7 linked regions of the Homo sapiens genome follow. Changing the gene in region 4 together with the main gene of any one other region gives a genetic interaction. Each region holds a gene or a part of one and is shown on either strand. Other genes may lie near its edges.

Region 1 (4,394 bases), on a different chromosome or scaffold from region 4:
TTTTAACTTTGTATAAATAAAGCCCTGAGTTTTAGATTTGGTTGTTTTTTTCTGTTACTTGGGATTTATTGGAGATCAATAGTGAAGAGAAGTGTCTTTATTTTACCAGTCTAACTTACCCTTGGCCGAAGAAGAGTGTTTCCTTTAGACTGTTGATATAATGTGAAATACTGACAGTTTAATGGACCCGTAGGTTGATATGTACCCTGGAGGAAATTTGGGTATGTATTCACACAGCTGCAGATGAATGCAGCATTTGTAAATGGACTAAGTCAGATGAGGATAAAGATGTTAAAAAAAAAAAAAAAGCTTAGGGGCTATCAGTTCTGCAGTATGTTTTATTCTTTTATAAGAGTCTGAGAAAAATGTTTTATGCTGGTAGAAGAGCAGGCATCCTACTCTGAAAATTTTTCTGTAGGTGTGGTCCCTTGGCTTGCTAAATAGGGATCTAAAATAGTTTGTAGTAGTTTGATTTTTCCATCATTGTTAGTATTTTTTTTAATAGTATGAGTATTTTTTTTCATTTTCATAGGTTTGGGTTTTCTTTTTCCTTCGTGACTATCATAAAACATCTGTTATCCAAGCAAAATTTTTTGTTTCTTCGCAGAGATTACCAACACCAGTTTTCTTGTTTGGCTAAATCTCCTTTTTAGTAGTAGGATGTCAGGCGTATTTTAATTAAATTCTAGCCATTTCTTTCAGTGATTGTGAACTGTTTTTACCACCTTAGTAGTAATAATACCTTGGATTTATGGAATACTTTTCTATCAGAGAGTTCAAAGAGCTCATATCTATAATTTCTTTTATCCTGTTAACATTTCTATGAGGGAAGGGGTACAGTTTATTATTATCACTATCTTACAGAGGGAGAAGCTGAGGTGACTTGCTTTAATGCCGTAGCTACTGTTAACTGCCAGGACTTATCTGAGAGACTCATACTTGGATGTTCTATGAAATGGAGCTGAGAATTTGAGGGCTACTTTGTGTTTTGGATATCAACAATTACCTCTTTAATTTTTTTTTAAATATAAAAATACTGTTAAAACAGTGTAACTATCCAAAGTATGTGTGTAGTGAACTATTGGATTTTTGTCCTGTTCTATTGCTCCTTCTTACTCCAAGTTTATGTATTGTCTTGATATTTTGTATGTTTATATAAATGCGTGTTTTTTTTAAAACAAGTGTAAATGAAATCATACCTATACATACATGGTTTTGCAATTGTTTTTTTCACCTGCAATATAGATACTTTTTTTTTTTAAGAGATAGGGTCTCACCCTGTCACCCAGGTTGGAGTGCAGTGGCATGTAGCTCACTGTAACCTCGAACTCCTGGGTTCAAGTGATCTTCCTGCCTCAGCCTCCTGAGAAGCTAGGACTGTAGGGGTGTGCCACCAGGCCCACCTAATTTTTTTTTTTTTTTTTTTAATTTTGTAGAAATGAGGTCTTGCTATGTTGCCTGGACTGGTCTTGAACTACTGGCCTCAAGTGATCCTCCCACCTCGGCCTCCCAGAGTGCTGGGATTACCATGCTTGGCCTAGACACTTTTCAAAATGAACTCATAATCAAGGGTTGACAGACTTTTCTGGAAAGAGCAAGTTATTAAATTGTTTAGGCTTTGAGTGCAGTCATATGTTCTTGTCATATGTTCTTTTTTTTTTTTAAACAATCTTTTACAAATGTAAAAATCATTCTTAGCTTTCTAGCTATTAATAAATAGCTGAAGTGTGGGGCCATAGTTTGCTGACCCTTGATAGATATCTGTGTCATCTATTTGTAGGATTAGAGTTTTCAGTGGTGTGTGTATGTTCGTATGTTCTATTTTGCCTTAATGAACAGTGCTGGAATGAAGGGGGAACACTTAAAGTATCCTTATCTCTTACTTTCTCTGATATGTATATTTAGTCCTTAAAACAGCTTAAGCTTTCCCTCTGAAAGTAAGGTTATTCCTGTTGTTTCTTGGTGACTGATGGCGTTTCCCATCCACAGGGTCCTAACCTGATTATAAAACAACCAGATGAGTTGCTGGACAGCATGTCAGATTGGTGTAAGGAGCATCACGGGAAGGTAACATTACCAAATAACAGGATTGCTGCTTTGGGGATCAGTAGCAAGCTTTTTGCTCCCACACCTGAATCCGATACCATTGTTGGATGGTATTTTAAAAAGGCTTAGAGAAGATTGCATGGCAAGCCTGGGAAACTGCTTGCTTGTTTACTTTTCATCTTTGGGACCTCTCGAGATCATCTTCTCCTGAATGTCCTCTTTTTTTTCTCTCCTACATTCAGTCTGTCGCGAACGCATTGTGGATTGTCAAGTATTACTCAAGTCAGTCTTTTGGATAAGGTTAGACATCAACTTTCAGAGAAGGGGGATTGCTGCTCTCCTGTTAATAGTTGTTTCTTCCCAGAGGTTAATATCCTTGGACTTTGAACACCGTCTTTTTTGACTGTGGACATGCTATTAACAGTCAGGATCATAACTAAGTTGGCTTGGATTCTTGAAGAAAAAAAAATGGTGCAAAGATGGCAGTTGCAATTTGAACTTGAGCTCTAAAAATGGTCTATTTGTGGTTATATTTGCCCATTTTAAAAGTGAAATTTCATTTCTGGATGCCTTTGAAAACTGACTTTACATGTGTTTTTGGTGGGGGGCTGGGGATTCTCTCTTGCAGTCTGGCCTTACCAAGGCAGTGAAGGAGAGTACAATTACATTGCAGCAGGCAGAGTATGAATTTCTGTCCTTTGTACGACAGCAGACTCCTCCAGGGCTCTGTCCACTTGCAGGTAAAATCCAATCCTGTGTATATCTTATAGTCTTCCATATGTAGTGGTTCAAGAGACTGCAGTTCCAGAAAGACTAGCCGAGCCCATCCATGTCTTCCACTTAACCCTGCTTTGGGTTACACATCTTAACTTTTCTGTTCAAGTTTCTCTGTGTAGTTTATAGCATGAGTATTGGGAAAATGCCCTGAAACCTGACATGAGATCTGGGAAACACAAACTTACTCAATAAGAATTTCTCCCATATTTTTATGATGGAAAAATTTCACATGCACAGAGGAGTGGATTTAGTAATTGTTAACCTTGTGTCGTATTTGTTTTACCTATTTTTTGTTGGACATTTTAAAGGAAATTGCAGGCATCAGGACACTTCATTCCTAAATACTTCATCAAACATCTCCTAAGATAAAGACATTTTCTTATGTAATACAATGTCATTGCATTGAAGATAATTAAACATTATTCAGTATCATATGATATCTAGTCCACATTAGATGTTCCCCAAAATATTTGTTTTTGAACCAGGATTCAGTCAAGGCTCGTGCATTTCATTTAGTTATATTTCTTTAGTCTCTTAATGTAAAACTTTCCACCTATTATTTTTCCCCTGTGTCATTGACTTTCTAAAGAGACCAGGCCTGTTCTACCAGGATTTTTAAAAGGGTGACATTGCCAGAGGGAAGTTAATGTTTCTCTGAAGGTATATGTACGTTTGTATATGTAAGTCGATGTGGTAGCTAATACTGTTCTTAAACATTTATAAAAATAAGTTTTGGCATTAAGTACTAGAGCATATATTGTGTAAATGTTTCCGCCAGCCAATGTGGCTGATATCTGTTTTAAAGGTCTCATTTAAAATTTAGTGTTTTTAGTATAAGTTACTTTTTGGGGACATAAATATGCATATGATTTGTTTAAAAATTTGGATTGTAAATAAAGGTTTATCTACCTATGTGATTCAGTTAAATTTTTAGTGTTAGTGGTGTGAATTTTGTGACACTGGGAGAAAGTTTGCATATCAGGTATGACCTTAGAAAGTAACAAATAGATTTGTGCATTACATCAAGCATGTGGAATGATAGATTTGTCCTTCTGTTCATGAGAGGTCATTTACAAATTTATAAGGAGCTAAACTGACTAAGTACTTGGAAATCTGTACTTGTAAGCTAATCACATTTACCCAAACCTGATTTAGAAATATAGAGGTGCTTTTAGGAATTGTTTGAATTTTAAAAAATCATCTCCATTTCAAATACAACTTATGAATTTTGATATCCTGTTGTATAATACTAGAAATATAGAGATGCAGTATGCTTCGTGTCTTTCTAGGAAATTCAGTTCATGAAGATAAGAAGTTTCTTGACAAATACATGCCCCAGTTCATGAAACATCTTCATTATAGAATAATTGATGTGAGCACTGTTAAAGAACTGTGCAGGTAAGGGCTATATTTAGGATCCATTAAATTACCTCATTTAGCATGTTTTAATTGAGAATTTGTGGAAAGTAATTGGATAGAGCTGTAGAACTAAGGCTACCAAGTGGGTTCATATCTTCCTCATCCCATTCTTGCTTGTATAGGACCTTAACTTACCCTGGACTGGTGAGAAT
Region 2 (4,394 bases), on a different chromosome or scaffold from region 4:
GTTGAATGAAGACTGGTAGTTCTTTAAAAAAAATTTTCCATAATCTGTTCATTGCTGTGGGCATTTTTAAAAAACAGCTTTATTGAGTTATAATTTACAACTATAAAGTCCTCCCATTGTAAGTATACAATTCAGTGATTGTCATAAATTTATAGAGTTGCACAACTCTCACCACAGTCCAGTTTTAGAACATTCCCATCACCACAGAGTTCCCTTGTGCCCATCACACTTAATCCCTGCTCCCACTCCCGGCCCAAGGCAGCCACGGAATGGCGTCTTGTCTCCATAAATGTGCCTTCTCTAGACACTTGATAGAAGAGTGGGTGGCACTGGCCATGGTGAGGCAGGAGTCTCAGTAGGCCAAGGGCAGCTCACCAGGGAGGCCTTCATTTACAGTATATAACATTAAGCAAGAGGCTTTATAAAGTGCTGTATGCATTATTTATTCTTGGTTTTTGTTGTTGCTGGGTGTTTTTTTTGTTTGTTTTTTGTGACAGAGTCTTACCCTGTCACCCAGACTAGGGTGCAGTGGCATGATCTCAGCTCACTGCAACCTCTACCTCCCAGGTTCAAGTGATTCTACCACCTCAGCCTCCCGAGTAGTTGGGACTACAGGCGCATGCCACCATGCCTGGCTAATTTTTGTATTTTTTGGTAGAGACAGGGTTTCACCATGTTGGCCAGGCTGGTCTTGAACCCCTGACCTCAAGTGATCTGCCCACCTCGGCCTCCCAAAGTGCCGGGATTACAGGTGTGAGCCACCATACCTGGCCTCTTTATTCTGATTGTTAATCTAAATGGAGAAAGGGGTGTTTGTTTTATTCTTTCAATTTTCTGTGTGTTTAAATATTTTGTAATGAAAAGGGGAAAAATACATGTTGTTTTTGGAATCAGCAGGAATGAGAGGAATACTTCAATTCTGGAGTACAAAAGAATCCAAGAGGTTTTTTTGGACCTAGTGGGCAGCATGGCTCCTGCCTTCAGGCACACTGTGTTCCCGAACCATATGTAGAGAAGAAACTCTGCCTCTGCCTGCCCTCGGCTTATCAGACCTAGACTGAAAGCATTAGTTATGGGATAAATGAGGTGTGCTAAAAACTTACTAGTACTCTTGAAGCGATTAGAAAGGTGTTACGCTAAGAACATCCTTAGTCATCATTAGATAATCAGAGGGAAAATGTAAAGACATGAAAAGTGGGGCGAACCTCTTGTTAACTCAGATGGGTACAGTCGGCCCTCCATATCATGGGTTCCACTTCCGTGGATTCACCCAACCTTGGATTGAAGATATTTTGGGAGAAAAATTGCATGTGTACCAAACGGGGACTTTATTTTCTTATATTAAACAATATAACAACTATTTACATAGCATTTGCATTGCATTAGGTATTATAAGTAGCCTAGAGATGACTTAAAGTATATGGGAGGGCCTACGTAGACTATATATAAATACTGCACCATTTTATATCAGGGACTCGACCATCTGCCGATTTTGGTATCCACCAGAGGTCCTGGAACCAGCCCCCTGTGGATACTGAGGGATTACTGTATATTCTACCTCAGCTAAAAAACTGGTAACTAAGCATGAACTAACTTCATTTTCTCTCTTCCTGGAAGGGTTATTTTGGAAAAGGTATTCTTTCAAGAAGCCGTCCAAGCTTCACAATTTCAGATCCTAAACTGGTTGCTAAATGGAAAGGTAAAGTTGTTGTATCATTCAGTTCTTTTGACAAATTAATCATTTTCCTTTGTTTTTGATCTTATATCTCAGGCTATATAGTAAAATTCTAGAGAAGTAACATGTACACTGGCAGTTTTACTGCCAAAGTTAGCTAGAATAATTCTAATCAAAGCAAAAGGGTTATGATTGGGTGACAGTGTGTTTAATTTCTAGAATTATCAAGTGTTAATTGGGCTTTTCTGTTGTTAAGTGTTTGCTTAGCAGAGTACTATGCCTATGGCAGGTACTGGTAGTTAAGTACCTGCTCACCTGTGGCACTATGCAAAATTTTTAAAATTTTGTTTCCAGAATTAGAATTTGTAATAGCCATGACATGTATGTGTGTGGTTCTCCCTTGCTGATTCTCTTTAATTTATAAATGTTTTAGAATATTTATCTAAGGAATTCTCATGGTAATTACTTAAGAACCAATACCAGCATGTTAAAACATAATTAGAAAGGATCTTTTAAAGGTTTTATTGTAAGAAAATATACAGATTAAAACTGCACTGAGATAACATGTCAACAATCAGGCAGAAATCCAAAAGTCTGACAATATACTGCATTGGTGAGGACTTCAGAAACAGACCTTCTCTTGCATTGCTGGTGGGGTGCTTGTGGTACCACCCTCATGGAGGTGAATTTGGCAATGTCTAGCAAAATTACCTATGCATTTACTTTGTTTTCTTTTCCCCCATTCCTCTCTTTCCTCAGTCCCTGGTAACCTTTATATGTTTTCTGTCTATGAATTTACCTATTATAGATATTTCATATATAAATAACAATCATACAATATTTGCCCTTTTGTGTCTGTTGCTTTCACTTAGCATATTTTCGAGGTTTGTCCCTGCCATAGTGTCTATCAGAACTTCATTCCGTTTTATAGTGGAATAATATTCCATTGTTTGGACATAGTGCCTTTAGCTCATCTGCTGATGGACACTTAGATTGTTTCTGTATTTTGGCTTTTCTGAATAATACTGTTGTGAATATTTGCATACACGTATCTGAGTCTATTTTTAGTTGTTTTGGATATATACCCAGGAGTAGAATTAATGGGTCATATGATAATTGTCTGTTTAACATTTTAAGAACTAGCTAAACTATTTTCCACATTGACCGCATCATTGTACATTCCCACCAGCAATGCACCAAAGGTTCCAATTTCTCTACATCCTTGCCAACACTTGTTTAAAAAAATAATAGTCGGCCAGGCGCGGTAGCTCACGCCTGTAATCCCAGCACTTTGGGAGGCCGAGGCGGGCAGATCATGAGGTCAGGAGTTCGAGACTAGCCTGACCAAGATGGTGAAACCCCATCTCTACTAAAAATACAAAAATTAGCCGGGCATGGTGCTGTGCACCTGTAATCCCAGCTACTCAGGAGGCTGAGGCAGGAGAATCACTTGAACCCGAGAGGCAGAGGTTGCAGTGAGCCGAGATTGCACCACTGCACTCCAGCCTGGGCGACAGAGCAAGACTCCGTTTCTAAATAAATAAATAAATAACAGAGCAAGACTCCATTTCTAAATAAATAAATAAAATAAAATAGTCATCCTAATGAGTATTAAATGGTAAAAGTTTTTCATTTTAATGAAGTCCAATTTATCTATTTTTTCTACTATTGCCTGTGCTTTTGGTATCTATTTAAGAAACCGTTGCCAAGTCCAAATCATGCAGATTTCCCTGGTGTTTTCTTTTAAGAGGTTTATAGTTTGAACTCTTAAGTTTAGGTCTTTGGTCCATTTTGTGTTAATTTTCGTATACTGTGTAAAGTAAGGGTCCAGCTTCATTGTTTTGCCTGTGGATATCCAGTTGTCCCAGTATATGCGTTTACTTTTGATCCAGCAATCTCACTTCTAGGAATTTATCTTAACAATACGCTGACAAAAATATGAAAAGAAATAGCACAGGGCTATTCATGCAACACTGTAATATCCAAAGACTGGGAACAACTTACATGTTCATCAGGAGAGGACCTGTGGAATAATCCATATTTATATAATTAATCCATATAATGAAGGACCGTGGAGCTGAGACAGGAATGGGAGATCGCTAGGATATGCTGGTAAGCGAAGACAGCACAGTATAAAGGAAAGTACATGCTGTGCTGTGGTTTATCTAAAAAGATGGAAATATAAAATAGATATTTTATTATATTTTTTGAGACAAGAGTCTCACTCACTCTGTCATCCAGGCTGGAGTACAGTTGTGCAATCTCCGATCTCAGCTCACTGCATCCTCCACTTCCTGGGTTCAAGCGATTCTCCTGCCTCAGCCTCCTGGGTGAGTAGCTGGGATTACAGGTGTATCCCACCATGCCCGGCTAATTTTTGTATTTTTAGTAGAGACAGAGTTTCGCCATGTTGAGCAGGCTGGTCTCAAACTCCTGACCTCAAGTGATCTGCCTGCCTTGGCCTCCCAAAGTGCTGGGATTACAGGCATGAGCCACTACGCCTGACCAATTTTTTTTAAATGGAAGGATAAAGCATAGTTTTTTAAAAATTCCAGTAGGAAGGGATGAAACAGGATGCAGAGAGAGGTGAGACTTTATAGATTTGACTTTGTAACCATATAAATGTATTACATAATTATAAAAAAAGTTTGGCTGGGCATGGTGGCTCACACCTGTAATCCCAGCACTTTGGGAGGCTGAGGCAGGCAGATCACCTGAG
Region 3 (4,394 bases), on a different chromosome or scaffold from region 4:
TTTTCCAGTTAATAAATACTTCGAGGATCTACGATTCATTTCAGCAGTGCCAAGCAAAATGTTAGACCTTGGGGATACAAAAAGAAGTAAAATTGGGTCCCTATCCTGAGGTTATTGACATTCTAGTAGAGGAGATGTCTGTGTGTGTGCAGGTGAACCATAATAAAGTACTGTGGGTTCTAAGGTAGAAGTCCCCAGGAGGTACCATAGAACACTGAGAAGGAAACACTGATGATGGTAGGTAATGAGTACTTACTCTGCTGGTGTGATGTTAAATGCTTTATCTCATTTTTTTCTCGTGTGAGAAGGTGTTATTAGCATCCTGATTTTACAGATGAGGAAACTGGGGCACAGAGACCTTGAATAACTTCCTTGAGTTTATGCTGCTGGTAGAGCTGTAAGATAGAGGGGATTATCTGCTGAACACTGAGATCGGCACTCTTCATTACTACACCATGTTGCTTGTTCTTTGTGATGTGGATGCGGACCCTCTGGAAAGGCTTCAGAGAGAAACTTGCCCTTGAGCTGTAGCTTCAGTGTGCCAGTCATTGTGAGACAGGAGGGATCACGAGGAATGGAAGTGGCCTTTGCACTAAAGGAGCTCATAGCCTTATCTGTTACTTTAAATGTTTTTCTTTTTTGGTGGGGGAGCTTGTTTTGCTTATTGACTTATACCTGAAGACTTCAGAAACTTTTGCAGTTGAGTGGATTTATATGATTCAGCCTAAGATAATTTGCTGGCAATCTGTTATTCTGATGTATAGGCCTTACTGTTACGGACGCAGTTGTAGATGTCAAATTATTATATGACAAGGACTTCTGTCACGTTACTTGTTTTTTTTTTTTTTTTTGAGACAGTCTTGCTCTATCACCCAGGGTGGAGTGCAGTGGCATGATCTTGGCTGACTGCAACCTCTGCCTCCTGGGTTCAAGAGATTCTCTTGCCTCAGCCTCCCAAGTAGCTGGGACTATAGGCAGGTGCCACCACGCCTGGCCAATTTTTGTGTTTTTAGTAGAAACGGGGTTTTGCTGTGTTGGCCAGGCTGGTCTCAAACTCCTGACCTCAAGTGATCTGCCTGCCTCGGGCTCTCAAAGTGCTGGGATTACAGGCGTGAGCCACCATTCGTGGCCACATTACGTTTTTTCCCTATGGGAGGTGCCCTGACTTGTTTCTGTGAGTTCGAAGTTTTTGTGAAGTTTTTTGACTCAGAAGTCAGCATATTTCAGCTTGTGTTAAATTTAAGAGGCTTAGTGGTTAAATATGTTACTTAAGAGTCACAGAGCTAATGTGTGATAGAGCCACAAAAAACTGGCCAAAAAAGAGTAAACAAATCTTCATTAAATTATTATTATTGTTCTGTTTGAGCATCTTCCTCAGTGGTCTCCAAGTCCGATGCCTGTTATGTACTAGGATGAGTAGGCTGGGCCTTGATGAACTGGAGAGCACGGGCCCAAACTAAAGGGAGCAGTTGCTGCTCAGCTCCACTTGCTTGTTGCCATGTGAGGAAGTGGGCCCAGTGTCCTTGGATCTTTTGACACTTTTTGGAAAAGATGCTGGAAATCTGGATTTTAATTTATTCTTATTTATTTATTTAACTTTTAGAGACAGGGTATCGTCCTATCAGGCTAGAGTGCAGTTTCGTGGTAATAGCTCACTACAGCCTTGAATTCTGGGCTCAAGTGATCCTCCCACCTCTGCCTCCCCAATAGCTAGGACTACAGGCGCATGCCACTATGTGTAGCTAGTTTTTTTTTTTTTTCTTTTTTTGAGACAAAGTCTCGCTCTTGTTGCCCAGGCTGGAGTGCAGTGGCATGACCTTGGCTCACTGCAATGTCCGCCTCCCGGGTTCAAGCGATTCTCTTGCCTCAGCCTCCTGAGTAGCTGGGACTACAGGTGCCCATCACCACGCCCAGCTAATTTTTGTATTTTTAGTAGAGACAGGGTTTTGCCGTGTTGGCCAGGCTGGTCTTGAACTCTTGACCTCAAGTGATCCGCCTGCTTCAGGCTCTCAAAGTGCTGGGATTACAGGGGTGAGCCATTGCATCCGGCCATGTACTAGCTAGTTGTTGCTTTTATTTTTTTTGTGGGAAGGAGTTTCGCTCTTGTTGCCCAGGCTGGAGTGCAATGGCGCGATCTTGACTCACTGCAACCTCCACCTCCTGGGTTCAAGCAATTCTCCTGCCTCAGCCTCCTGAGTAGCTGGGATTACAGGTATGCGCCACCACGCCTGGCTAATTTTGTATTTTTAGTAGAGGCGGGGTTTCTGCATGTTGGTCAGGCTGGTCTCGAACTCCCGACCTCAGGTGATCCACCTGCCTTGGCCTCCCAAAGTGCTGGGACTACAGGCGTGAGCCACTGCGCCCGGCCTAATTTTTAAAAAAATTTTGTAGAGATGGTGTCTATCTATGTTGCCTAGGCTGGTCTTGAACTCCTGCCTTCAAATGATACTCCTGCCATGGCCTCCCAAATTGTTGGGATTACAGGTGTGAGCCACTGCATGTCGTGGATTTTAATGTATTTAGTTTAAAAATTTGCCATTAAAAATTATGTTGATCAAAACATATTTGTGGGCTGAGTGTAATTCTAGGCTGCCTGATTGTGAACTCCAACCTACCTGGCTGCTGAAATTTTGGTACCTGTTGTTCAGAGCAGGAAGTATACAATACAATGTTTTGATTATTGATTAGAAATCTCATGGTAAATTGCCAGTGTGAGGGGGCATTGTAGCTTGCGCTGATAGTTTTGGAGAGTGGCAAGGTCAATGCTTTTATTGTATAATCAAGCTAAAGTATAGATCTGGCTGGTGAGATGACCTTATAACACTTCTATTTTGTGCTCTTAGCACTTTAAATGCTACCAGATTTCTTGTCTCTTGGCCCTCTCCACAATAGTATGAAGTGGTATGGTAAATTTGTTAAATGCTCTTGTATACCTTATTTTCTTTAGTCTTCATAGTCCTATGAGATAGGTAGTATTACAAAGGGGGTAATCATCACCTCTTGAGATGAAGAAATCGGCACCCAGTGAATCACAGTTTAGTGGAAAGAGCAGTTGACTAGAGAGGGTGTTGCATCCTGAATATGCGGATACCACTAACAGCCAGTGAATCACAGTTTAGTAGCAAGTGCAGTTGACTAGAGAGTGATTTGCATCCTGAATATGCGGATACCGCTAACAGCCTTTGGAGTTTGGTCACGTCACTTACAAATCCTCGGATCTTTTTTCCTTTTTGGATAAATAATGAGGAGTAAAATTCAAGTCTTGCTGAAATTCAATTCGTAATATCCTATACTTGAGTATACTTTTACTAATATACTTTTATTACTGATGCAAAGTATACTGAATGTGTAAAACTTCAAAAAAATAACATTTTCCAGTTCCCTGCGGACTCATTTTAAGGTACTGTGTTACAAATAAGTACCATTTCAGCAGAGAAATTGGTAGAAAATTGAAGGAATGGTTTTCTTTTCGGGATGCCAAGCTTTCTGTTTCTAATTGATATGCTTAAAGTCACACAACTGATTACTGGCAGACTCCAGTGGAGATGACTCAAATCTAAAATGCTGCCCCTCCTCTCTTGCTGGCAGGTCAGGAACCACTACTCAGCTCTTCATCTGTTCTTTATTCATTACTTCCTCTGGGAAAGGCCCTTGATGGGCCAGGTGCTCCCCCAGTGCATGCAGTGCCTATTGACTATATGTACTCAAGATTGAAAGGGGGCGTAGAGACACCCAGCACAGTGAGAGAAATATGGTCAGGGAGTTCCCAGCCCAAGAGTTTAATTTATTTTTATTTTAATACCCAGCTTTCACAAGGTGAAAATTGAAGAAATACTGGTCTTGTAGATACTTGTTTTCATTCATACTCTATTGTATAAGGAAATAACAGAATATAAAAATAAAGGGAATAAATCCTGAGCAGTCATTCAAAATTTATTAACTCTAGTTGGCAGCAGTCTAGATATATTGGGGAAATGGATTTAATATAGGCAACACAAAATTTGGACTGAAAGTAGAATACAGTTTTATGTAATTGAAAGTGAGAAAAATGGGAGAAACCACTTAAAAAACAAACCCGAAACTCTAGAAAGAACAAGAAGGTATTAGAATAACTATTGGAATTAAGTTATAGTAATTGCTTGTGAAATAAGTGGAATATTATGTCACATTTATGCCTAAATATAAGCAGTGTTAGATTCTTAATATCCTATACGTGAGTATACTTTTATGAATATACTTTTATTATTGATGCAAAGTGTACTGAATGTGTAAAACTTCAAAAAAAATAACATTTTCCAGTTCCTTATGGACTCATTTTAAGGTACTGTGTTATAAATAAGTACCATTTCAGCAGAGAAATTGGTAGAAAATTGTTTGAAGGAATGGTTTTCTTT
Region 4 (3,458 bases):
AGGGTAAATAAACGGAAAAGGACAAAAATACCTCTTGTGCCTAATAAATAGTAAATTTTCTTTTTTTTTTTTCTTTTTTTGAGACGGAGTCTCGCTCTGTCACCCAGGCTGGAGTGCAGTGGTGCGATCTCAGCTCACTGCAACCTCTGCCTCTTGGGTTCACGCCATTCTCCTGCCTCAGTCTCCTGAGTAGCTGGGCTACAGGTGCCCGCCACCATGCCTGGCTATTTTTTATATTTTTAGTAGAGATGGGGTTTCACCGTGTTAGCCAGTGTCTCGATCTCCTGACCTTGTCATTCTCCCATCTCGGCCTCCCAAAGTGCTGGGATTACAGGTGTGAGCCACCATGCCCGGCCAATACATAGTAAATTTTCTATACTGATAAACACTGCTAGAAGAAACTGGAGCTGGAAATTTCAAAGAGGGATGGAAAGTCAGGGTCCAGTTCTGGACATTTCTTAGAAAGGCAGCCACGGCCGGATGCGGTGGCTCATGCCTGTAATCACGCCACCGGCTCATGCGGTGGCTCAAGCACTTTGGGAGGCTGAGGTGGGAGGATCATTTGAGGTCAGGAGTTCCAGACCAGCCTGGTCAACATGATGAACCCCCATCTTTACTAAAAATACAAAAATTAGCCAGGTGTGGTGGTGCATGCTTGTAATCCCAGCTACTCAGGAGGCTGAGGCAGGAGAATTGTTTGAACCCAGGAGCCAGAGGTTGCAGTGAACTGATACTGCGCCACTGCACTCCAGCCCGGGTGACAGAGTGAGATTCCATCACAAAAAAGAAAAAAAAAAAAAAAAAAGGCAGCTGCTAGGCCGAGCACGGTGGCTCACGCTTGTAATCCCAGCACTTTGGGAGGCCAAGGCAGGCGGATCACCTTCGGTCAGGAGTTCAAGACCAGCCTGGCCAACGTGGTGAAATCCTGTCTCTACTAAAAATACAAAAAATTTGCGGGGCGTGGTGGCTCGTACCTGTAATTTCAGCTACTTGGGAAGCCGAGGCAAGAGAATCACTTGAACCTGGCAGGCAGAGGCTGCAGCGAGCCGAGATCATGCTGCCACACTCCAGCCTGGGTGACAGAGCGAGACTTCGTCTCCAAAAAAAAAAAAAAAAAAAAAGGCAGATACTGGGGACAGCAGGACACAGCAAAGGAGCAGCACAGCCCGGATCATGGAGGGAAAACAGAGCAGCCCTGCTGGAAGGAAGCAGTGCTCAGGTTGCGAAGTGAAGAAAAGCTCAGGATGAAGAGACACCAAGACTGGCCAGAGCTAGAAAGTGTCTAGCCCTTGGAAACTTCAATTACCATGGAAATAGCTTCACTCCCACTTTTAGAGGCTATGGGAGATCCTCATCTTTTCAGGAAAAAATAAAAATGAAAAGTCAAAGCAACAGGGCAATCCAAATCCATCCTTTACTTAGAAGCCTTCCTGAGCTGAATGGCTATTTTCTCAATCTCACCTTTGCCCTACCTCGGCTGGAAGCACAGGAAGCAAGAAAGCTGACGTTTCCAAGAATGGGTAAGAACATAATATTTGCAGTATTTATCCATCCTTTTCATGCCTAGATTTTGTCCTTTTCTATGCCCCATGCCAACAAGCTGGCTTCTCTTCCTTTATGGCTCCTCCTTCTTCCTGCCGCATACTCTTGTCACCCTAAGAATTTACCCTAGACAAAAGGATCTAGAGGCAAAAATGCTTTTCTGTGTCTTCTGTAGGGAAAGCGGAAGAAAAGGGAAGGTTGTTGGTCTTTTTTTTTTTTCTTTTTTTTTGAGACAGAGTCTTGCTCTGTCGCCCAGGCATATGCACTGGCGTGACCTTAGCTCACTGCAACCTCTGCCTCCTGGGTTCAGGCAATTCTCCTGCCTCAGCCACCCGAGTGGCTGGGATTACAGGCGCATGCCACCATGGCCGGCTAATTTTTGTATTTTTAGTGGAGATGGGATTTCGCCATATTGTCCAGGCCGGTCTCAAACTCCTGACCTCAGGTGATCCGCCCGCCTCAGCCTCCCAAAGTGCTAGGACAACAGGTTTGAGCCACTGTGCCGGTCTGTTGGTCTCTTTTTACCCTAAAATTGTTAAGTTCTTCTTTCAAGAGCACAGCAGGGGAAGGGCTGGGGAACTTAGACATATCGCCAAGTCAGACTGAGATGAGAACTTCTAATCTTACATGTTTAATACCAAACACAAAGCAAACACATTCATCATCTAGAGTACTATATTCCAACCCTATCTCAAATGCAGGAATGGGCCTCTATCTGGTATCTAGAGGATGATCATAGGAAACAAAATGAGGACAGAGGCATCTGGTATCTTCTAAAAGTGGTACAAAACTCCCGCCTGTCATGTCATAAAGCTCCCCATCTGGTGCTGCGACCCACCTCCAAGAGAAAGCCAAAGGAACAGACCAATAAAAGGGGTCCGGGGTGCTTTCTCTATTTCACTCACTCCTCTTATTTGCTAAGGAGCTCCAATAACCAAAAGAAATGGTTCCTAGAAGAAGAGAACTAAATCTCCAGAGAGCTGCTGGGGCATACCGATAAAAACTGGGAGAAACAAAGACTGACAGCAGAGAAGTCCAATACTGCTGCTGAAGTTTCTCAGCCTAAATCCGTGAAAGAGCCTGGGATTCTACTGCTCTGTCCAGTAAGAGGAGCTTCTGGGTCCTGTATGACCCTTCCAACTCTGACTTGAATGCACCATCTAAAAACGTGTCTATCTCTACCCCTAGGCTTCTTAGCTCTTCAGTCATCCTCATCATCCTCAATCTGGTATCGTTTCTTCTTTTGGATTCCTGGAGCTCCCAACTCTGGTGCTGTGGGAACGATGGGGGTGAGAGAGAGAGAGAATATCTAAATATGTTAAGGGGTAAGGACGTGGTAGAGTTTGTCTTCAGGATTAGAGAAGAAAAAGAAGGTCCCATCAAATTCCCTACCTCTGTTCCTGCCCTCATCTTCTTCCTGTTCCTCGTCGCTGTCCAGCAATTGTCGTTTCTTGGGTGCTGCCTTCAGCGGCTCTTTACCAACAGCGTCTTCCTCTGCAATGACCATAAATGACACAAAATTAGGAACTCGGTCCTCATATTCTCAGAACACCTTTCCTGCCCTCTAGACCAACATGGCTGACACGTTAATACTCAGAAGATGGCTGTCGCACTATTACCCTCTGGGGATGCCAGGCCCGCTTTCTTCTTGTGGGCTAGCAAGAGGGCCCTCAGGGCTTGTGCTCGGTGCTCTTTACAGTGCTCCTCATCAGAGCCTTGCTCTCCAGGGACTTTAGGCTGCAGCTCTGGCTGCAGCTTCTGTTCCTCCTCTGGTTGACTCAAAGAAGCTGCTGCCCTCCGGAGCTGGGTAGGACTCAGCTTGGCTGGAATTCGCCAGAAGGTTTCCTACAGGGGCCAAAAAGTTGAAAAGGGAAAGGACCAGCTTTTTGTTTCCCAGAGTATGATATTCATTGAAT
Region 5 (4,394 bases), on a different chromosome or scaffold from region 4:
TGAGATCAGGTTCCCACCCTTATGACCTCATTCAACCATAATTACTTCCTAATCCAAATACAGCTACATTGAGGGGTTAGGGCTTCAACATATGGATTTTGGGGGATATATATTAAATTCTTTACATCATGTTATTCATGGACTCTACATAAATTACCCCATTTGTCCCAATCATTTCCATTTTAGATCTAGGATTTAATCCAGGATTACTCGTTGATTTTAGTTGTCATGCCTCTTCAGTCTTCTTCAATCTGGAATAGTTGCCAGTCTTTTCTTGTCTTTTTCTTTCCTTTTTTATTTTTATTTTTATTTTTATTTTTGAGAGACAAGATCTTGCTGGGTTGCTCAGGCTGGTTTCAAACTCCTGGCCTTAGGTGGTCTTGGTCTCCCATAGTGCTGGGATTACAGGCATGAGCCACCGCACCCAGCCTTATCTTTCATGACTTTGACATTTTTGAGGAATACAGGCTGGTTACGTGATTAAATGTGCCTCAATATAGGTCTGTCTGATGTTTCCTCATGTTTGTGACCCCTTGACAGGAATATCTTAGAGGAGATGCTGTGCTTCAATCAGTGAGTCCTCTTAGGCATCACATGATCTCAATTTATTCCGTGGTTTCATGATGTTAACTTCTGTTTCTTTAAGATTGGGTCTGCCAGGTTTCTCTGTTACAAGGTGAATTAGCAAATATGTCACATTCATAAATTAATAGGCAATGTGTGTTTTGTGGGGAGAATCTTTGTGTTTTGTAGGGAGAAGCTTTGAGACTGTAAATATTCTGTTTCTCATCATATTTTCTCCTGCCAGATTTCTCCATTGATGCTTCTTGTTTGAATCTGTTATCACTGTGATGGATGCCAAATGACAATTTTCTAATGTTATCAGTCCTTCTAGATTTATTAGTTGGCATTTTACTGTAAGGTAGGGTTTTCCTTGCTATACCATATATTTCTTGTTTATTCGTTTACATCAATATAGACTCATGACTTCAAATTTTAATCAATTTATTACTATTATTTTTTAATTCTGATTTCAAATTTTCTTAGACTTAGCCAATAGAAGCCCCTTTATGACATGTTTCCATCATTCTTTCATCACTTCCTTATTTTCTGGCACTACAATGTGCCATGCTTATCTTGTATTTTCCTGACCTGCCTTGGAATCAGCCTTCTCTGCCACGAATTTTGGTTTCTTTAGTGGAAAGTGGCATTTAGAAAAAACTCTGAGCACTAGAAGTGTTCATTACTAGCCTCTCTCAGCAGAGACCCTAGAAAATTTTTGTGTATAAACAAGTGTGCATATGTGTGTTCAACAGCAGGAAATCTGGCTACCTTTATCTTCAGTGTATGTACTTACTTGCTCAATTCCCCCCATATGTAAGCAAATTACTGTGGCTGAAAGCTTGGCCCTAGAAAAGTGAATTCATCTCTGCCTGGTATGTCAGCCCAAAGCTGAGTATTAAATATGCTGCCCACTGGACACCATCCAAACACTCAGCAAGACAAAAGTGACGAGGAAGAAAGAAAGAGAAAAGTGTATTTAGGAAGTTCAGCTCCAGACATTTTAGAAAGGGTAGGAGGAAGGAGGAAAGGCCAGTTAGGAAGTTTGGTTCTAGACACATAGGCCCTTTCACCTACCCTTTTCCCAAGCTCAGCGCATGGATAGGGGAAGCAGGCTTAGAATGATGAGTTAACTTGTCCAAGCCTAATCGGTTGGGTAGTGGCAGAGCTGGAGTTTAAGCCTGGATTTTTTCTGACTCCTTACAACTTGCTATTTTTACTGCGTCTTGTAGAAAGCAGCTTTGCAACGGATGACAACAAAACAACAACAAAAACACTGAAGCCTTTCTTTTCTATATTAGGAAATATTTCTTTACTTTTGTCTCAGGTAAAAATCATCATTAACGTGGTTAGATGCCTATTTGTAAGATGGCATATTTGAAGTTATTTCTAAGCTAGAACAAACAGCTTAGACAGAGTTGAGCATAGTAGGATTGGGGTCAGAGACCGAGGTTATAACCTGGATACAAGGAGTTCTTATGATGATGAAAGGTCTGTCAATATGCATAGATACAATAACAATACAACATTGGGAGATGCTGAAATGAATATTTTTTTCTCTAAAGCTTTAAATGAATGCATAAGCCTGGGCTGCAATTTTTGTGAGTCTGAGTGTGCTTGTAATAATACATAAATTGTTACGATAACTAATGCCAAATAATGGATTATACCATGAATGGAATGAGAGCTCCTCAGGGCAGGGCTAATCCAACCCTGTTTTGTAGGTAGAGGTGTTAATTACACATTTTAAATATCAAGAGCTGGACTGACATTTCAGATTTGACACCTTTAATTTGCAACATTATTCTTCAGCAATAAACGTTAAACCTTGTAAACTCTTTCTGGTTAGCTATAATCATGTCCAATTTTATATATTAGGTAAAGTAAGTTATATAAGTTATTTTTCATATAAGCCATTTTGATATTCACATAATGTTTTCTTATCTGATTATTGATTTTTAGGCTTTCTATGGATTATAAAGATGTATTATTTTAAATTTTGGTATTTTTAATCCATAACATAAGTTAAGGAAATTGGGACTTCAGTCTTAATATGGTGGTCGTCACTGAACTGTATTTTCTAGTGGTTTTCCTGATAAAGCTCCTGAATCCATTTAACGATGTGAAATACCTAACAATAATTCTGACAATACTCACAACTGTTTATTTGGTAGCTATTTTTATCACAATACTTGTATCTAAAAGAATAAGAATAATGTATTTGAATAAATAGTAAGTACAAATATATGGTGTTTGCTTAAGAAAAGGCAGGGTAATCATTGTTTTCCAATTAGTGCACAATAATGCCCTGAAGTCGTCTCAGTCAGTTTTGATACCCTAGTTTCTTATTTTCTGGCAGTGGCCTCTGTGCCATCTTTTTGAGGAACTACTCCGTTTAAAAGCTCTTGATTAAGTTTATATGATTGACAGATAATGTGAAAGGAAAACAGAAATCATTTATCAATAGAAGGCATTTATTAATTCAAGTAATGTTTATCAAGATCAGGGCCAGCTTCATGAAAATATGACCTGTGCAGTCACACAAGGCCCTACTCTTAAAAGGGCCCCTCACTTATGATGTAGGACATGCAAGCCCCCAAATTGGGGCTTAGCCCAGGAGGGTTCTTGGCTTGGCCTAGAAAAGAATTCCAGGGCAAGCTGGTGGTGTTAAACAGCAACTTTTATTGAAGTGGCATTGTACAGTAAGCAGCAGAGAGACTGCTTCTTGCAGAAAGGGGCTACCCCATAGGCACTCTGCCCAGAATAGCAGCTTAGAGGCAGTTTTGCAAACTCATAGTTATACCCGCTTTTAATTATATGCAAATTAAGGGACAGTTTATGCAGAAATTTCTAGGATGAGTGTGGTAATTTCCAGTTCATAGGGTCATTGCCATGGAAAGGGGTGGTAAGATCTGTATGTTGCCATGGCGATAGTAAACTGATGTGGCACACTGGTGGCCATGTCTTCTGGAAAGGCTTCTATCCAGGAACTTTTTAGCTGATCCTCAGGTTCGTTCCAAGTCCTGATTCCTACCCCACTTAGATAAGCCCTGTGTTTGTTTAATGCTCTACTGTCAGCATCTTGAAATTATTTTTTGTTTTTGAGACGGAGTCTCACTCTGTCACCCAGGCTGGAGTGCAATGGCATGATCTCGGCTCACTGCAACCTCTGCCTCCCAGGTTCAAGTGATCTTCCTGCCTCAGCCTCCTGAGTAGTAGCTGGGATTACAGGCGCATACCACCATGCCCTGCTAAAAATTCTTAATAATTATTTAACATGGGGCCTTGCATTTTCATTTTGTATTGGGCCCTGCAATTTATGCAGCCAGTCCTGGTCAAGATGTAAATAGATATAAATATAGATAGAGATGCAGATACAGATATAGGCACAATATTATATCTCAAATGCACTGACAGACAGTCTCACATGATTCAGGCCAAAGCACAGTCTAATTACGTGATTTAATTATGTGATTAAAGGCAAAGGCAGAAAACTAGGGAAAGTACAAAAGTGGAGAGCCTTTAGAGCCTTTACTTTTAACCTTTAGAAGGTTAAAGGTAAGAGATAAAGGGAAAGGCAAATTCAGGTCTCCTGAGAATAGTCAGGTTAAGTGAAATATGATCAAAACTCCAAACTTGCTACCATAGCCCATAAGACCCTAGGAAATCCAGACCCTGCCTACTTCTCTAACCTTATCTCCTACCACTCTCTCCCTGTTCACCACACTCCAGTTGCACTTCTTTCTTTTCTTTAAACACCTCAAGTTTGTTTTACTGCCCTCAGACCTTTTCTCTGCCTGGAATGCTTTGTCCCTCAGCTTTTTTCACAGATG
Region 6 (4,217 bases), on a different chromosome or scaffold from region 4:
TAAATTAATTGGGGTTTTCCTTTTACTTTTCATTTTTCAGAGACAAGGTCTCGCTCTGTCGCCCAGGCGAGAGTTGAGTGGCGCGATCAAGGCTCACTGTAGCCTCGACTTCCTGGGTTCAGGTGATCCTCCCACCTCAGCCTCCCTAGAAGCTGGGACTACAGGCGCTCACCATCACACCCAGCTATTTTATTTTTTGAGAAGGAGTCTCACTCTGTCACCAGGCTGGAGTGCAGTGGTGCGATCTCTGCTCACTGTGACCTCTGCCTCCCAGATTCAAGCGATTCTCCTGCCTCAGCTGCCCAAGTAGCTGGGATTACAGACGCGCGCCATCACGCCCAGCTAATTTTTGTATTTTTAAGGAGACAGGGTTTCACCATGTTGGCCAGGATGGTCTCAATCTCTTGACCTCATGATCCTCCCACCTCAGCCTCCCAAAGTGCTGGGATTACAGAAGTGAGCCACTGTGCCCAGCCACTTCTGAAAATTTTTTGTAGAGATGGGGTCTCACTGTGTTGCCCAGGCTAGTCTTGAACTCCTGGCCTCAAGCAATCCTCCTGCCTCACCTCCAGAAGGGCTAGGATTAAAGGCATGAGTGACTGCATGCTTTTTCTTTTTAATTTTTACAAAATTAAAGTTTTTTTATTATTTCTGTAGGTTATTGGGGAACAGGTGGTGTTTGGTTACATGAATAAGTTTTTTTGTTTTTTGAGACGGTGTCTTGCTCTCTTGCCAGGCTGGAGTGCAGTGGTGTGTTCTCAGGTCACTGCAACCTCTGCCTCCTGGGTTCAAGCAATTCCCCTGCCTCAGCCTCCCAAGTAGCTGGGATTACAGGCACCTACCACCACACCTGGCTAATTTTTTGTATTTTAGTAGAGACAGGGTTTCACGATGTTGGCCAAGATGGTCTTGATCTCCTGACCTCGTGATCCACCCACCTCAGCCTCCAAAAGTGCTGGGATTACAGGCGTGAGCCATCGTGCCCGGCCGTTTACATGAATAAGTTCTTTAGTGGTGACTTGTGAGATTTTGGTGCACCTAGCTTTTTCTAGGAAGTTCTAACCCTACAGGAGGTTGTGCAGTAGAAAACGGGTGTCATCCCAGCTCAGCTTCATTAGCCTCCCACCCTGTGTAGGGCCTGGCCTTTCCCCCACGCAGCCCCAGGGCCCTTGGCCTGCACCCCCAGCCTCTAGCAGCTGCTGGGACCCCCTAAACCCCCGGGCCCCCTTGTGGGCATTCGGGAGGCATCCAGACATGCAGCAGCATGTCCAGACCCGGCTTTCTATAGACGCTGACCTGGCGGCACCTGGCCTGGCTTCCTGGGAGCCTCGCGGCTGGGCTCTTCTGCTTGGGTTTCAGTGTTCGTGGTAGCCCCGCCTGTCTGGGCACGGCCGCGCTGTGCTTGGCTGGGGCTGCCACGGATTCCAGTGCCACTTAGCGCCCAGCAAAGGGGCTGCAGCTCTGGGTGCCGATTCCAGGGTCCCAGGTGATTGGCTGGAGGGGACTCGGGTCCGTCTAGACTCTATCCAGTCCCCTGTGGTGTAGGTGTGGGCCTCTTGACCCTCTGTCCGCCAGCGGGGACTGGAGAAGGCAGGTCTCGAGCAGGGTGCCTGCACTGGTCACCCCCGCCCAGTGTGTCACCAGCAGCTATGCACCAAGCTCCCTGTGGGCCCAGCATGGCACAGGGAACAGCAGCAGCCAGCCCCATTGCCCGCCTCGGGAAGCTGCCATCGCTGGATGGTCAGGGAGGGCTTCCTGGCGGAAGGGATGTTCTCACTGAGCATGGAGGATGCGAGGAATTCAGGAAGCGAATGGGACAGAGAAGGATGGGTAGCTGGCAGGAAGCACAGTGCGTGCAAAGGCCCAGAGGTGGCAGGGGTTCGGCATGGGCAGCAAGGGGCAGGGTTGCGAGGTGAGGCCAGACCCAGCGGGGTGGGTGGAAGTGGCCTGAGAGCAGCACTGAGGCCGCCGGGATGCCACGTGGTGTGGGGCAGAGCACGCGGAGTCAGGCTAGGCTCCAGCCTCCCAGCACCCCACTCCCGCCCTCAGCAGCCTCCCCGTCTATCGAGGAGGGACTTGAGCCTCGGGCCCCTGGGCCAGTGGTAGATGCCAGACAGACTCCATGTAGGATGGGGGGCGGCGGTGGGGAGCTGTTTGTCCTGGGGCGGGCCCAGGACTTCCCCAGGGGCCAGCAGGGTGGCCTTCTTTGCTAGGCTTCACAGAGGGAAACTAAGGCCCAGAAAGGGCAGGCCACTTGCCCACAGTCACACAGCCCAGGCTGGCAGAGAAGATCTGAATTCCAGAGAGCCTGGCTACCGAGCACACCCCCCAACCCCCTCATGGACTGCCCAAGGCCAGGGCAGAGTTGGGCCAGGTTGGTGGGCCGGGCCCACAACTAGGGTTCCCAGACCCACATATCAGACTCACCTGGGGAGGGGCATTCTCAGGGCCAGTCCTGGCCTCCCCCACGCTGGGGGCCTGGGCCTCCAGGTCAAGGCCTCAGCAACTGCATCTTAACGTGGCTCCCAACCTCCGCCCACCCCCTCCCCTCCGCTGTGGCCAGGGTGGGGACAACCTGAGACCAGGGAGGTGGCGGGACTGGATGGGACCCCTGTGGGGGAAGAGGAGGGGAGGGGGACCCCCCCATGGCAGGGGAGGAGGCCCTGATGGGGTGGAGGAGCACGTAGGAAATGTGGAACCGCCCCCCCATGCCCCCACCCCGCTGCAGGTGAGCGCCGCGAGGGGGTCAACGCCTCCGTCAGCTCTGATGTGCAGTCGGTGTTCAAGGGGAAGACATACAACCAGCTGCAGGTCATCTTCCAGGGCATCGAGGGCAAAATCCGCGCTGGTGGCCCCAACCTGGACATGGGCTACTGGGAGAGCCTCCTGCAGCAGCTTCGTGCCCACATGGCACGGGCCCGGTGAGCACTAGGTGCGGGTACCAGGGTTGGTGCCGTCCGGGTGGGATGGGTTTCGCCCCCTCCTGAGTCCTGGGTGGGGTGGGTCTCGCCTCCTCCTGGGACCATGTGGGGTGGAGAGGGGCAGGAAAGTGCCGACTGGCCGGGGCCAGCCTGTGAGTGACGAAGGGGGGCCGGGGGGCGCGTAGTCCCGTGCCCTAGCGGGAAGGCCCCAGGATGCTCCAGTGCCCTCACCTGGAGTCAGCCCTGTTGGTCTCACAGGGCTCCCCAGGAGCTTCCGCCCTTTAACGAGTACCTGGCGCGCTCCAGCAGCCATGGCATCACAGGAAGCCCCCAGGCGGCCTGCCTGTCCCCACTGCCTTGCGCCCAGGCCTGCGCCCTCCCAGCGCTGCTGCCTCCCGGCCTCTGGCTGTGTACAGATTTCTGGAGTGTTTTTGGCACCGCTGTGTAAATACATGTCTCCTCTGCTAATTTGTAAATGTCTCTAAATTTATCATGCTTGTTGGCTGGTGTCCTGCTGGGCCCCTTCTCCTGGCCAGCCCCAGCCACAAGACACTGAGACTGCAGCGTGAGACAGAGACCCACCTCTCCCTGCCATGGGATGGTTCACCAGGGTACCTGCGTCCTCTCGTCCTCTCTCCCATAAGCCTTGACCCTGAACTGACCAAGCCTGGGCAAAGGTCCCAGCCAGAGCCGTGGCTGCTCGCCACCTTCTCAGGGTCCTTGCAGCAATAAGGGGCGTGAGAATCTCGGTGGGGGTGGGGCGCGGAGCCCCTTCGCCTCCATGCGGGTGACCCCGGCTCTGCGTCCCAGGCTGCGTGAGCGCCACCAGGACGTGCTGCGGCAGAAGCTGTACAAACTGAAGCAGGAGCAGGGCGTGGAGAGCGAGCCGCTGTTCCCCATCCTCAAGCAGGAGCCCCAGTCCCCCAGCCGCAGGTAGGCCCGGCCGGCACCCCGGGGACGCCGATGCAGACGCGGAGCAGGATGGAGGGGCCGTGGGCAGCCTCCGCGCCTCCAACGCTCTCTCCTCCCAGCCTGGAGCCTGAGGACGCGGCGCCCACCCCGCCCGGGCCCTCCTCGGAGGGCGGCCCCGCGGAGGCCGAGGTGGACGGCGCGACCCCGACAGAGGGCGACGGCGACGGGGACGGTGAGGGCGAGGGCGAGGGCGAGGCGGTGCTCATGGAGGAGGACCTGATCCAGCAGAGCCTGGACGACTACGACGCCGGCAGGTACAGCCCGCGGCTGCTCACGGCGCACGAGCTGCCACTGGACGCGCACGTGCTGGAACCGGATGAGGAC
Region 7 (4,397 bases), on a different chromosome or scaffold from region 4:
CCTGAGGTCTGGAGACGGAGACCAGCCTGGCCAACATGGCAAAACCCCATCTCTACCAAAAATACCAAAATTAGCCAGGTGTGGTGGCAGGCGCCTGTAATCCCAGCTACTCAGGTGGCTGAGGCAGAAGAATTGCTTGAATCCGGGAGGCGGAGGTTGCAATGAGACAAGATCATGCCACTGCACTCCAGCCTGGATGACAGAGCGAAACTTTGTCTCAAAAAAAAAAAAAAAAAAAAAAAAAAAAAAGGCCGGGCAAGGTGGCTCATGCCTGTAATCCCAGCTTTTTGGGAGGCTAAGGCAGGGGGATCACGAGGTCAAGAGATCCAGACCAGCCTGGCCAACATGGCGAAACCCCTTCTCTACCAAAAATACAAAAGTTACCTGGGCGTGGTGGTGCACACCTGTAGTCCCAGCTACTTAGGAGGCTGAGGCAGGATAATCGCTTGAACCCGAGAGGCGAAGGTTGCTGTGAGCAGAGATTGTGCCACTGCACTCCAGCCTGGCAACAGAGTGAGACTCCGTCTCAAAAAAAAAAAAAAAAAGTAACATTCAGATCTAATACTATGTGTCTTTCTTGAATTTTCATATGGACTATTGTGTCAACATATGGTGTTAAAAAAAAAGTTATTAACTAAGATATTAGTGAAGCCTTCCTCACATAAGAATATCAGGCTGCTGGCCAGGTGCGGTGGCTCACACCTGTAATCCCAGCACTTTGGGCAGCCTAGGCAGGTGGATCACTTGAGGTCAGGAGTTCGAGACCAGCCTGGCCAACATGGCAAAACGCTGTCTCTACTAAAAAATACAAAAATTAGATGGGTGTGGTGGCGCATGCCTGTAGTCCCAGCTATGTGGGAGGCTGAGGCAGGAGAATTGCTTAAACCCAGGAGGCGGAGGTTGCAGTGAGCCGAGATCGCACCACTGCACTCCATCCTGGGCGACAGAGCGAGACTCCATCTCTTTAAAAAAAAAAAAAAAAAAGGGAAGAATATCAGGCTGCTGAATTCAAAATGCCAGAGATGTAAATGCCCTCCGCCTTCTTACTGCCATCCCCCAGCATGGCACATTTCAAGATATTAAGGGATGGGAGTCAGGAGGAGCTGTAATTAAGCTGATTGGAACCTATTGTGCTGCTCTGGAGCACAGACACCAAGCAGCCTTAGGGAATGAGTGCCTCAAGATCACTGGGAAATGATGTCCTCTTTTCCAGAAAATAACGTAGCAGAAATACTCAATCTATACTATTTCTCCCTTTCTTTGTTTTCCATCTCCCCTCCCCAATTTAATTGTGGTGCTTACTGTGTACCTTTAAAACTGACTTTTATCATGCATTTGTTTCTTAACAGTTGCGAGAAAGAATCAAAGCTGGCAAAGGTGTGACTTCAGCTATTGACCTGTGTCGTTACCATGGAAACAAGGCACTGGAGGCCCTGGAGAGCTTTCCTCCCTCGGAGGCCAGATCTGCTTTAGAAAACATTGTGTTTGCTGTGACCAGATTTTCATGACATCAAATTAAAAAGACACTATTGTTAGTTAGCTGAAAATCCTAGGGAATGAGGTTGATTGGGAGCGCTTTCACGATGCGTTAATGACTTTTAAAACATATGCATTTTTCCTTCCTTTTATCACATTGCTAAATGAGTTCTGCTTTCTTTTTGGAACTGCTACAAACAAAATTAGAAGAAAAAAAGGTCAAGCAGTTTTCACTTGTCACGCCAGAAGCACACTTGAGGCTGCAGTCGCAGAAATAATTAATGAGATTCGCTCCTGTGACCTCAGCAAATGGACAGGAAATAAGTCCTTATTGATTGGACCGAGCCAGGGATGGCGCCAGGGCGGTGGCCTGTGGTTTTTCCTGCTAGAGAGGACAAAGCAAGTTGGAAGCTGCAGGTGTCAAGAGAAATGCTCTCAATACCAACCAGGGAGGATTGTCTAATCAAAAACTAGTGACCAATTTGTCATAATGGAGAGTAGTTCAATGGATTGAGAAAAATATGTTTTATTTGTTGGCTTGTAATTATGTCTCTGGATTATTATTATTTTTTTTTTAGATGTAGTTTTGCTCTTGTTGCCCAGGCTGGAGTGCAATGGTGCAGTTTTGACTCACTGCAACCTCCGCCTCCTGGGTTCAAGTGATTCTCCTGCCTCAGCCTCCCGAGTAGCTGGAATTACAGGCACCTGCCACCACGCCTGGCTAATTTTGTATTTTTAGTAGAGATGGGGTTTCACTATGTTGGTCAGGCTAGTCTCGAACTCCTGACCTCAGGTGATCCGCCTGCCTCGGCCTCCCAAAGTGCTGGGATTAGAGGCTTGAGCCACTGCACCTGGCCTCATGTCTCTGGATTTATAATGCAGTATGAATATACTTTGTGCTTTATGGTTTTTATAATGTCTTTTTGGAGAAATTGCCGAAAAGTTGCCAAATACTTGAAGTAGGAGATTAAAATGTTATCAAATGTTAAATTGGTTATATTAGGAATAGTCTGTTTTTCTTTCCTGAAGATCAGTTTTTTTATTCAAACACATTTCAAAGAACCAAATTTTTTTTTTCTTTAAGGAAAAAGGAGCTTTTTTTCAAGTGAAATGTATTCATTTGTAATACTTTGGTTTAAGGCATACTTTAATTTTTACGAGTTTCAGAAACAGAATTTTTGTACTAGGGAATTCATTGGTGAGAGTGTTCTTTTAACCTCAGAATGTCAAATTTTGGTCTTGAACCACAGACATCCAATTACAGAAAGAATATAAGCAATCTCACAGGCCTGCAATCGGACACTGTCTCTGTGTGGTTCATAGGAGATGATTTTTGAGGTTTGCACTCATGCAATTTGAGAACACCGTTGACAAGAAGGCTGAGTTTACATAAATGATCTAGATTGAAACTCAGCTACCTTTCTTCCTCATGTGGTGTAATTACAGCCCTATCTGGAGACAGCGAATACAGCAAACAGATTTTATTACCTAGTTCGCTCAAACACTACATGAAGTTATTTTAGTTAAAGCCCTCCCCCAAAAGTTATAAAACCATTTTATCAGGGCCCAACATGTGGCATGCAATGAAGAGAAAATGTAAAGCTACAGAGGTTAATGTATTGTATTATAAAATATTTTAAGTGTACTCAAAATATCATAATTGTACAGTTTATGCCACCATAATTTGAGGCCTATAGATTTAGCTTAAGAGAACACTGTTCTGTTTGAAATGCTTTCTGTCACTGAAATTGGCTTAATTAGTAACCATGGATAAGATGCTTTAGATCAGACTAGGTTTTAATCATTAACTTCCACAAAGAAGTCATACTTTGCGTTAGGTGTGCTGGTTGGATGTGCAGGAACTTCAGCAAGCAGTAGGTTTTACTAAGCAGATGGTCGGGCACTGCAGGGCACCAGGCAGGATCCTAGGGCGCCTCTTATTCTGCGTTAGCATCTGGTTTGCTGTATGACCTTGCACAAGTCACTTCCTTCTGAGCCTCAATTTTCTCATCTGTACAATGAGATTCAAAAGTTGACCTGAAAGTCAAGTGTGAAAAAAAAAAAGAGATTAAACAAGATAATTATGAAATTCTTTCCAGGTTTGTTTTATTTTCTGAAAGTTTACTATTCTTGACTGTCTAAATAGCAAAGATGCTGTGTGAGGTTCAGGGAGGAGGGAAGGTGAAACCCAAAGAGAGGCCCTGAAGGAATGGAGAGAGCTTAATGGCAAGCTTCCTGCCAAGCTGCCTCTGCATGACCTAAAGGATTCCAGCTCTCCTATGTGACATGTAACCCTGGACTTTTCTGTCTCAACACCTGCCTTGCTGCTTTCTTCGGGACCTTTCCTACCTCCCTGTCATCTTCCCAGCTGCTCTCGTGTCCTTTATCCCATCTCCTGTACCTTGCCATCCTGACTCCCTGGAACCTGGATCCCTGGGAGCAGTAGCCCCCTGCTGCCTGCTGAGTGACAGAGCTCTGCCTCCCCCACAGGGGTGGCTGGCCTCCTTCCTCAGGCCCCACTTAGCAGAATTCTCACTTCCTCAGCATCACGGCAGGCTTTTACAGAACATAACAAGTTGGCTAGTTCACTCCAAAATACAAGACCAATAGCCTTTCTCCCTGCCCCTTCTTCAGGGATATTTATTTCTTAGCACATATGAAGTTCTTATAGTTTCAGACAATCTCTAAGGAGAAATTTGGGGCACTGAAACATTCCTCAATCACACCTCTCAGCCTGCTGCTGCCTGGGTGTGGCTAATGGAGGCAGTAAGTAGAATTAATGGCTCTAGAATGTGTCCTTGGCCCCTCTCCAGCTTTCCCCATCCCCAGTTACCTGCTAGAGGGAAGAATTCATTCATTAGCAATTGTCCTGCTTTCCTCTGCCTAGCACCCCCCAAATTGTCAGCTGGCTCCTGCAAACC

What was found.
Region 1: changes in TIMELESS (region 4) and REXO2 together harm fitness more than expected from each alone (negative genetic interaction), as found in Homo sapiens cells (one large-scale study listed by BioGRID).
Region 2: changes in TIMELESS (region 4) and TSEN2 together harm fitness more than expected from each alone (negative genetic interaction), as found in Homo sapiens cells (one large-scale study listed by BioGRID).
Region 3: changes in TIMELESS (region 4) and MAPKAP1 together harm fitness more than expected from each alone (negative genetic interaction), as found in Homo sapiens cells (one large-scale study listed by BioGRID).
Region 5: changes in TIMELESS (region 4) and STXBP4 together harm fitness more than expected from each alone (negative genetic interaction), as found in Homo sapiens cells (one large-scale study listed by BioGRID).
Region 6: changes in TIMELESS (region 4) and CACTIN together harm fitness more than expected from each alone (negative genetic interaction), as found in Homo sapiens cells (one large-scale study listed by BioGRID).
Region 7: changes in TIMELESS (region 4) and PDSS2 together harm fitness more than expected from each alone (negative genetic interaction), as found in Homo sapiens cells (one large-scale study listed by BioGRID).

What each region holds. Positions count from the first base shown.
Region 1 is NC_000011.10:114,441,867-114,446,260, forward strand, and holds part of REXO2 (oligoribonuclease, mitochondrial precursor), read left to right. Parts: intron 1-1,989; coding exon 1,990-2,067; intron 2,068-2,674; coding exon 2,675-2,786; intron 2,787-4,112; coding exon 4,113-4,221; intron 4,222-4,394. UniProt on the Homo sapiens protein: 3'-to-5'exoribonuclease that preferentially degrades DNA and RNA oligonucleotides composed of only two nucleotides. Binds and degrades longer oligonucleotides with a lower affinity.
Region 2 is NC_000003.12:12,490,519-12,494,912, forward strand, and holds part of TSEN2 (tRNA-splicing endonuclease subunit Sen2), read left to right. Parts: intron 1-1,617; coding exon 1,618-1,699; intron 1,700-1,710; exon of another isoform or gene 1,711-3,787; intron 3,788-4,394.
Region 3 is NC_000009.12:125,700,227-125,704,620, reverse strand, and holds part of MAPKAP1 (target of rapamycin complex 2 subunit MAPKAP1), read left to right. Parts: intron 1-4,394. UniProt on the Homo sapiens protein: Component of the mechanistic target of rapamycin complex 2 (mTORC2), which transduces signals from growth factors to pathways involved in proliferation, cytoskeletal organization, lipogenesis and anabolic output.
Region 4 is NC_000012.12:56,414,973-56,418,430, forward strand, and holds the end of TIMELESS (protein timeless homolog), read right to left. Parts: intron 3,388-3,458; coding exon 3,162-3,387; intron 3,037-3,161; coding exon 2,935-3,036; intron 2,815-2,934; coding exon 2,744-2,814; 3' UTR 1,391-2,743; downstream 1-1,390. UniProt on the Homo sapiens protein: Plays an important role in the control of DNA replication, maintenance of replication fork stability, maintenance of genome stability throughout normal DNA replication, DNA repair and in the regulation of the circadian clock.
Region 5 is NC_000017.11:54,971,493-54,975,886, forward strand, and holds part of STXBP4 (syntaxin-binding protein 4), read left to right. Parts: intron 1-4,394. UniProt on the Homo sapiens protein: Plays a role in the translocation of transport vesicles from the cytoplasm to the plasma membrane. Inhibits the translocation of SLC2A4 from intracellular vesicles to the plasma membrane by STX4A binding and preventing the interaction between STX4A and VAMP2.
Region 6 is NC_000019.10:3,613,101-3,617,317, reverse strand, and holds part of CACTIN (splicing factor Cactin), read left to right. Parts: exon of another isoform or gene 1-2,722; intron 2,723-2,728; coding exon 2,729-2,921; coding exon of another isoform or gene 2,922-2,925; exon of another isoform or gene 2,926-2,932; intron 2,933-3,387; exon of another isoform or gene 3,388-3,731; coding exon 3,732-3,854; exon of another isoform or gene 3,855-3,952; coding exon 3,953-4,217. UniProt on the Homo sapiens protein: Plays a role in pre-mRNA splicing by facilitating excision of a subset of introns. Required for the splicing of CDCA5/Sororin, a regulator of sister chromatid cohesion. Involved in the regulation of innate immune response.
Region 7 is NC_000006.12:107,151,730-107,156,126, reverse strand, and holds the end of PDSS2 (all trans-polyprenyl-diphosphate synthase PDSS2), read left to right. Parts: intron 1-1,349; coding exon 1,350-1,508; 3' UTR 1,509-3,565; downstream 3,566-4,397. UniProt on the Homo sapiens protein: Heterotetrameric enzyme that catalyzes the condensation of farnesyl diphosphate (FPP), which acts as a primer, and isopentenyl diphosphate (IPP) to produce prenyl diphosphates of varying chain lengths and participates in the determination of the side chain of ubiquinone.